Homo sapiens: one gene and its partner. The protein of the gene in region 1 purifies or fractionates together with the protein of each later gene. This does not show direct contact. Each region holds a gene or a part of one and is shown on either strand. Other genes may lie near its edges.

Region 1 (3,500 bases):
ACAAAAATGAGCTTAACATATGCTAGAATAGCTAAGCCATAACTCCATTACCAAATTAACCTCTACTAAAAGTTTTACTACAATATTCTCTGTTATTAGCAGTATCTAAAAGTGTCTAACGTTAGCCAGATGAGGTGGGTCACGCCTATAATCCCAGTGACTCGGAAGGCTGAGGTGGGAGGATTGCTTGAGCCCAGGAGTTGGAGGATGCAGTGAGCTATGATTGCACCACTGCACTCCAACCTGGGCAACAGAGCAAGACCACAACGCTTAAAAAAAAAAAAAAACAGTCTAAACATTGGCAGCATTTAATCTTAGCATTCGTCTAGAAGCAAACATTAGGACTGATTTTTTAAAATTATAAAATGTAACTTAAGAGAGGGAACAGAAAAGAAAAAAGCCCGTAGACACTGACGTAGATGCAAATGATCTGCTTTCATAACTATGTGAATCATAAATGAAAAAGCACTGGACTTGGGACCAGAATCTGCCATATGCTGACTTTGCAACCTTGGACAAGACCATCTAAACTCGGTCAGTTTCTTGATCTTTAAAACAGGAGACAAGCACCTATTATCTTACCTCATTTAATTACAGTAAAGATAAAGTAACAATGTAAATTATAGTAGTAACAAAATAAAAGCTAACATTCTGTTAGCACTTGAGATAAGTATATAAACATCAGGTTCTAGCTATTTTTGCAATCAATCAGGCTAAGGTGAGAGGGGAAGCAGGGTTCACTCATTCAGAAGTCTGGATTGCAGACTCAACTGAAACAGACCTATTACTAAGTATCAGGCACCTTGCTGGGTGCTGTCCCAACATTTCATTTCGTGTTCACAGGAACATTTAGCAGATGACACAGCTCAGGTCCTGAAGGTGGAGTAACTTGTCCAAGACATCACCGTCAGTGTCCTAGCCCCAATCAACTATTTTCCACAACACCAAACTGCCTTACACTATATAGCTTTTCCATGTAAAAAGTTAACATGGGCTAGGCACAGTGGCTCATGCCTATAATCCCAGCACTTTGAGAGGCCGAGGAGGGAGGACTGCTTGAGGCCAGGAGTTCAAGACCAGCCTGGGCAACACAGCAAGACCCCCATCTCCACACACAAAAAATTTTTTTTAATTAGCAGCTGGGCACGGTGGCTCACGCCTGTAATCTCAGCATTTTGGGAGGCCGAGGTGGGTGGATCACCTGAGGTCAGGAGTTCGAGACCAGCCTGGCCAACACAATGAAACTCCGTCTCTACTAAAAACACAAAAAATTAGCCAGGCATGGTGGTGGGCGCCTGTAATCCCAGCTACTCTGGAGGCTGAAGCAGGAGAATCACTTGAACCCGGCAGATGGATGCTGCAGTGAGCCGAGATCGTGCCACTGCACTCCAGCCTGCGCAACAAGAGTGAAACTCCATCTCAAAAAAAAAAAAAAAAAAAAAGAAATTAGCTCAGTGTGGTGGCACGTGGCTGTAGTGCTAGCTACTCGGGAGGCTGAGGTGAGAGGATCACTTAAGCCTGGGGATTCAAAGTTGCAGAGAGCTATGATCATGACACGGCATTCCAGCCTGGGCAACAGAATGAGACCCTGTCTGTATTAAAACAACAACAAATGATTCTTCTTTGTTTCCCACAGTGAATCTGCAAGCCAGGTGGCTTTACCTTAAAGACATATCCTTTATGGGTGCCCTTTTCATTATTGCCAGGAAAATCTAAGTTATGGGCATCTTTTGCTTAGATTACTGCCAAAGCCTAAATGGTCACCCTGTATCCACTTGTGCCCAACTCTAGTCCATTCTTCATTCAGCAGTTAATTTTCCTAAAACATAGATCGCACCAGACACTTGCTCAGAACTCGTGGATTGCTTCCTAGTACACTTCTGATGATATCCACCATACTTACTGTGGCCTTATAAATCATACAGGATTACCACCTCTCTGCCCATCTTCCCAACTACAGCATGGCTCCACTGGCTTATGTCCAGGTCATCAAATGTTCCAAGTTCTTTCCACCCGCTGGGCCCGTGCATGTATTGCACCCTCTGAAACAATCTTTCAGCTACTCTTTCCACAGCTATCTCCTATTTATTCTTCATGTTTAACCCCCTTCTCAAAAACTTTTTTCTGAACTAATTACTTTCCTATACTTTTTTTTTTTTTTGAAAGAGTCTCACTTTGTTGCCTAGGGTGGAGTGCAGTGGCACGATCTTGGCTCACTGCAACCTCCGCCTCCCCAGCTTCAAGTTAATTCCCCTGTCTCAGCCTCCTGAGTAGCTGGGATTACGCCTGGCTGATTTTTGTACTTTCAGTAGCGACGGAGTTTCACCATGTTGGCCAGGCTGGCCTCGAACTCCTGGGCTCAGGTGATCCGCCCGCCTTGGCCTCCCAAAGTGCTGGGATTACACATGTAAGCCTCTGTGCCTGGCCCTAGACTGTCTTATAGAACACTGTACTGTTCCTTCACAAAACTTAACACAATTTGAAATGATATATTTACCCATGAAATTGTTTAATAAAACTATTTCTCCTATTAGACTATCATCCACAGGGTAAGGACTGGGTCTATTTTGCTTACTCCTGTTTTCTCAGCCCCCTCATAGAATGGGATGGTAAACTCAAGAAAAGTGCTTCTGCGTGGTATATCCATTATTAATACTGCATTTGATCCTCACAACAATCTTGTTTTTTTTAAAAAAGAAAACATTACAATATTTTACTAAAGATCCTGTACAGTTTTCTTTGTCCTACTTCTTGTAAGCGTTATTTTTTCAAAATGAAAATTGCTTTTCTGATTAAGAAAGAAACATGTTTATTCTAAAGGGAAAAACACGCCCACAATCCCACCAGAAATACCCACCTTCAACATTTTGATGCATGAACACATTCAGAAACCGGTATCACACTCTACATATTTTTTTGTATGTAATCTGTTTTATTTGCCCCCTCTATCCACCTAATATATTGTGGGCAACTTTCCATGTCCATAAGTCATTTATTTGTTAAACCATGTATTAAGTACCTTCTACTTGCTGGTCACTGTTGTGTACCATTATGCTTTGTAGGTACAGCAATTCCATCTTATGACTCACCTAACACTTATAAGGCAGTGTCTACCATCCTCCACGCCCTCCCTCAAAAAGCCTGATAAGCAGGAGACTTCTTCCAAGTCTTCCTACCTTGGTGACCCATTCCGTGTGCCCGGTGAGTGTGTTCAGGCATGTCCCAGCAGATAAAGCCCATACTTTCACAGTGAAGTCTGCAGAGCCGCTCACCAAGATATCCAGTTCATCATTGTAGTCCACGCTAAATACTAGTGCATATAATTACACAAAGTTAAAACATGTCTCTGTCAGTGGGTCTTTTATAATAGAGTTCAATAATGTTTATTTTCCCCAATTATATAATTTCCCAACCAGAGACACCGTAAGAATGATGCTATTCAACTAGCAATTTTCTGATAAAACTATTTCAAAATTCTTACTATTATAGCTTATTATTCT
Region 2 (3,317 bases), on another chromosome or scaffold:
ATTCGTTCTCTTATTGGTGCTAACTTGACATAACAAGCTAGCAAACCATATAGTGGTCCCCACAAATTTTTGGCCCCTGACATCTAAATGTCTGGAAGTACTGATCTGTTCTCTTAGTATGTTTTAGTTATGTAAAGAAAATAGAACTACATAGAAGTAGAAGTAATGAGACTATACCTAGGGCTCTCAGGAGAGACATTTAATTGTGGCTAATTTTTAGGGAAGGAGCACCGAAGAAAATTAAAACCTAAAATTCAACCAAAAGATTCTTTGACTTTATTACCTCCTGTAACTAACTTCATGGGACTCTTCAAAGCAACAAAAAAGACCAAGGATTCCCATAATATTTTTTCTTTTTCATCTACAATTACATCAGATATCACAAATGTATCAAGACCAAGAATAGTGTGTTTGAACCAACTTGGGAAACATGTCCAGAAAGCCAACCCAGAGCCTGCAGAAGGCTAATAAAACATTTTAGAATGAAAGGATTCCTGAGCCATCTTTTAAAAATTTTTTTATTTTTAATAATGGTAATATGCAAATAACATAACTGAATAATCTTTTTGAATGAAAGTTCTTGATCTCGATACTAAGCAGATTTTCCTTAGCATGTCTACAGGAATTTAGTGTCAGGTCAGAGTTATGGTTTCAAAAAATTAGGATTTCTGTAAACAAAGGCCTGCACTTAAACCTTAAAATTTATTGACTGACATGAGTGGTATAACTAGTGTATATATCAAGAGTTAACATTTTTAAATTGGTGTGCAAGAAGCCTGATTCAAAGTAGCTCACATGGTAACATTTATTGTAATACTTTGAGATATTTAGTAATAAATATTACAAATGTATAAGTCTTCTAAGACCCAAAATGTATACCTTAAGAAACATTTTGGCTAGGCATGGTGGCTCACACCCATAATCCCAGCACTTCTGGAGGCCAAGGTGGGAGGATCACTTGAATTCAGCAGTTCAGGACCAGCCCGGGCAACATGGCAAGAGCCTGTCTCTACAAAAAATAGAAATAAAGTTGGCTGGGCATGGACATGCACACCTGTAGTCCCGGCTATTCAAGAGGCTAAGGCAGGAGGATTGCTTGAGTTCAGGAAGTCAGGGTTGCAGTGAGTTGTGATCTGGCTACTGTACTCCAGCTGAGGTCAGAGAGTGAGACCCTGTCTCAAAAAAAAAAAAAAAAAAAAAGTCTGAGAGTCAGTGGATGAAGCAGAAAAGAAAAATTAAAAAAGAAAATAAAACAAAAATTTTTTAAAAGGGAAAAAAAGTTTTATTTAAAAATAAAATCTGAAATCATTGCCCATCAAGTACATGAGTATGGCTTTTGTGGCTAACAGTGTTGCTCATTCTCCATATTTATAGTGTCTTTGGTTTGCAACTGGAAAGGGTAATAGTCTTTGTGGCTTAGAACCATATGATGTCTTTGCTCAAATAGCAATGTCTGCTTCTCCTATTTTATAGCTGCAGATAGATATGATACAAACACCTGGCTTCACTGTGTACTTTATTTTACTTACTTACTTATTTATTTATTTATTCGAGATGGAGTCTTGCTCTGTCACCCAGGCTGGAGTGCAGTGGCAGGATCTTGGCTCACTCCGCCTCCTGGGTTCAGGCAATTCTCCTGCCTCAGCCTCTTGAGTAGCTGCGGTTACAGGCGCCTGCCACCACACCTGGCTAATTTTTGTATTTTTAGTAGAGATGAGGTTTCACCATGTTGGCCAGGCTGGTCTTGAACTCCTGACATCAGGTGATCCGCCTACCTTGGCCTCCCAAAGTGCTGGGATTACAGGTATGAGCCACTGCGCCTGGCTTCACTGTGTACTTTAAAGCTCCCCTTTTCTCCATCCACTTGCTGAATTGCCTCCATACAGTCTGAGGGTCTTGCTATAATCCATTCTCTACCTGGGCTGCAGTAAGCATTGAAAGTATATATTAATTAGCGGTTATTTTCCCCGATATGTACTTAGGGCTTTCTATGTGCTAGAGTCCAAAGTCAGTGGGTGAGTGAGTGGGTGAATGAATTATTATTTATTTATTTGTCTGTTTAAGACAGGGTCTTGCTCTGTTACCCAGGTTGGACGGCAATAGTGCAATCATAGCTCACTGTAGCCTATAACTCCTGGGTTCAAAGCAATCATCCCACCTCAGCCTCCTGAGTGGCTAGGGCTACAGGTTCTCAGTCTTTGTTATGCTGAGTGTGGTGGTACAGGCGTGTAGCCCTAGCTACTCAGGAAGCTGAGGTCTCTGCTATGTTGCCCAGGCTGGTCCCGAATTCCTGGCCTCAAGTGATCCTCCTCCCTTGGCCTCCCAAAGCATTAGGATGAGCTACCATGCAAAGTTTGTGTTCTTAACCACTAAAAAATAAGAGACCTCTTTAATCTTCATATTTACTTCTAAATTATCTTAATGGTGCTGAGTCACAACTTTCTGGTGGATTGACTGAAATATAGGAAATGCGGAGGGAAATGGTCTATTTTATACTAGAAAGGGATACATATTCAAGTGATGAATTGTGTTATCCAGCACCATTAAGGATAAGAATTTATAACAATGGAAATATTAAGTTTCTGTAGATATTTTTAAAAGCCTTTAGAGAGCAACTTTTGAGCTCTGAAACTGGTTTCAGGTAGGCTCAAGACTATACTTTAGGACTATTTTCAGGTTATCAGAGTTTCTTTGCATTCAATGCCAGATATTTCCTGAGTATCTTGGCCTAGCCAGACCATCCTACCACTCCTAAAATTTATACTACTTCTCCTATAAATCTCCCCTATAAAGATTATTTTTATTGGCTGGGCATGATGGCTCACACCTGTAATCCCAGCACTTTGGGAGGCCAAGGCGGGTGGATCACATGGTCAGGAGTTCGAGACCAGCCTAGCCAGCATGGTGAAACCCCATCTCTACTAAAAATACAAAAAATGAGCTGGGCATGGTGGTGCTTGCCTGTAGTCCCAGCTACTCGGGAGGCTGAGACAGGAGAATTGCTTGAACCTGGCAGACGGAGGTTGCAGTGAGCCGAGATCGAGCCATTGCACTCCAGTCTGGACAACAGAGCGAGACTCTGTCTAAAAAAAAAAAAAAAAAAAAAAAGATTATTTTTATTACTCCACGGTTTTTTTTTTTTTAAACAATGTGTGAAAAGTCAGGCCCTGGAGGCTGAAGTTGGAGGATTACATGAGCCTAGGAGTTCTACTCCAGCCTGGGCAACATAGCAAGATGCTGTCTATAAAAATCGAAATAAAAAATTATGTATGAGAAAGGCCTCCAGATATAGAGGGTTACATTCAAAGAATTGTACA

Evidence for each region. The genes of interacting proteins can lie anywhere in the genome.
Region 2: the proteins of FBXW2 (region 1) and OSGEPL1 purify together in Homo sapiens (affinity purification with mass spectrometry, with the first as the bait; one large-scale study listed by BioGRID). This does not show direct contact.

What each region holds. Positions count from the first base shown.
Region 1 is NC_000009.12:120,772,917-120,776,416, forward strand, and holds part of FBXW2 (F-box/WD repeat-containing protein 2), read right to left. Parts: intron 3,311-3,500; coding exon 3,177-3,310; intron 1-3,176. UniProt on the Homo sapiens protein: Substrate-recognition component of the SCF (SKP1-CUL1-F-box protein)-type E3 ubiquitin ligase complex.
Region 2 is NC_000002.12:189,746,160-189,749,476, forward strand, and holds the end of OSGEPL1 (tRNA N6-adenosine threonylcarbamoyltransferase, mitochondrial), read right to left. Parts: intron 1,923-3,317; exon of another isoform or gene 1,173-1,922; coding exon of another isoform or gene 1,103-1,172; exon of another isoform or gene 1,010-1,102; coding exon of another isoform or gene 973-1,009; 3' UTR 501-972; downstream 1-500. Other genes in the region: ANKAR (ankyrin and armadillo repeat-containing protein), read left to right, coding at 221-468. UniProt on the Homo sapiens protein: Required for the formation of a threonylcarbamoyl group on adenosine at position 37 (t(6)A37) in mitochondrial tRNAs that read codons beginning with adenine.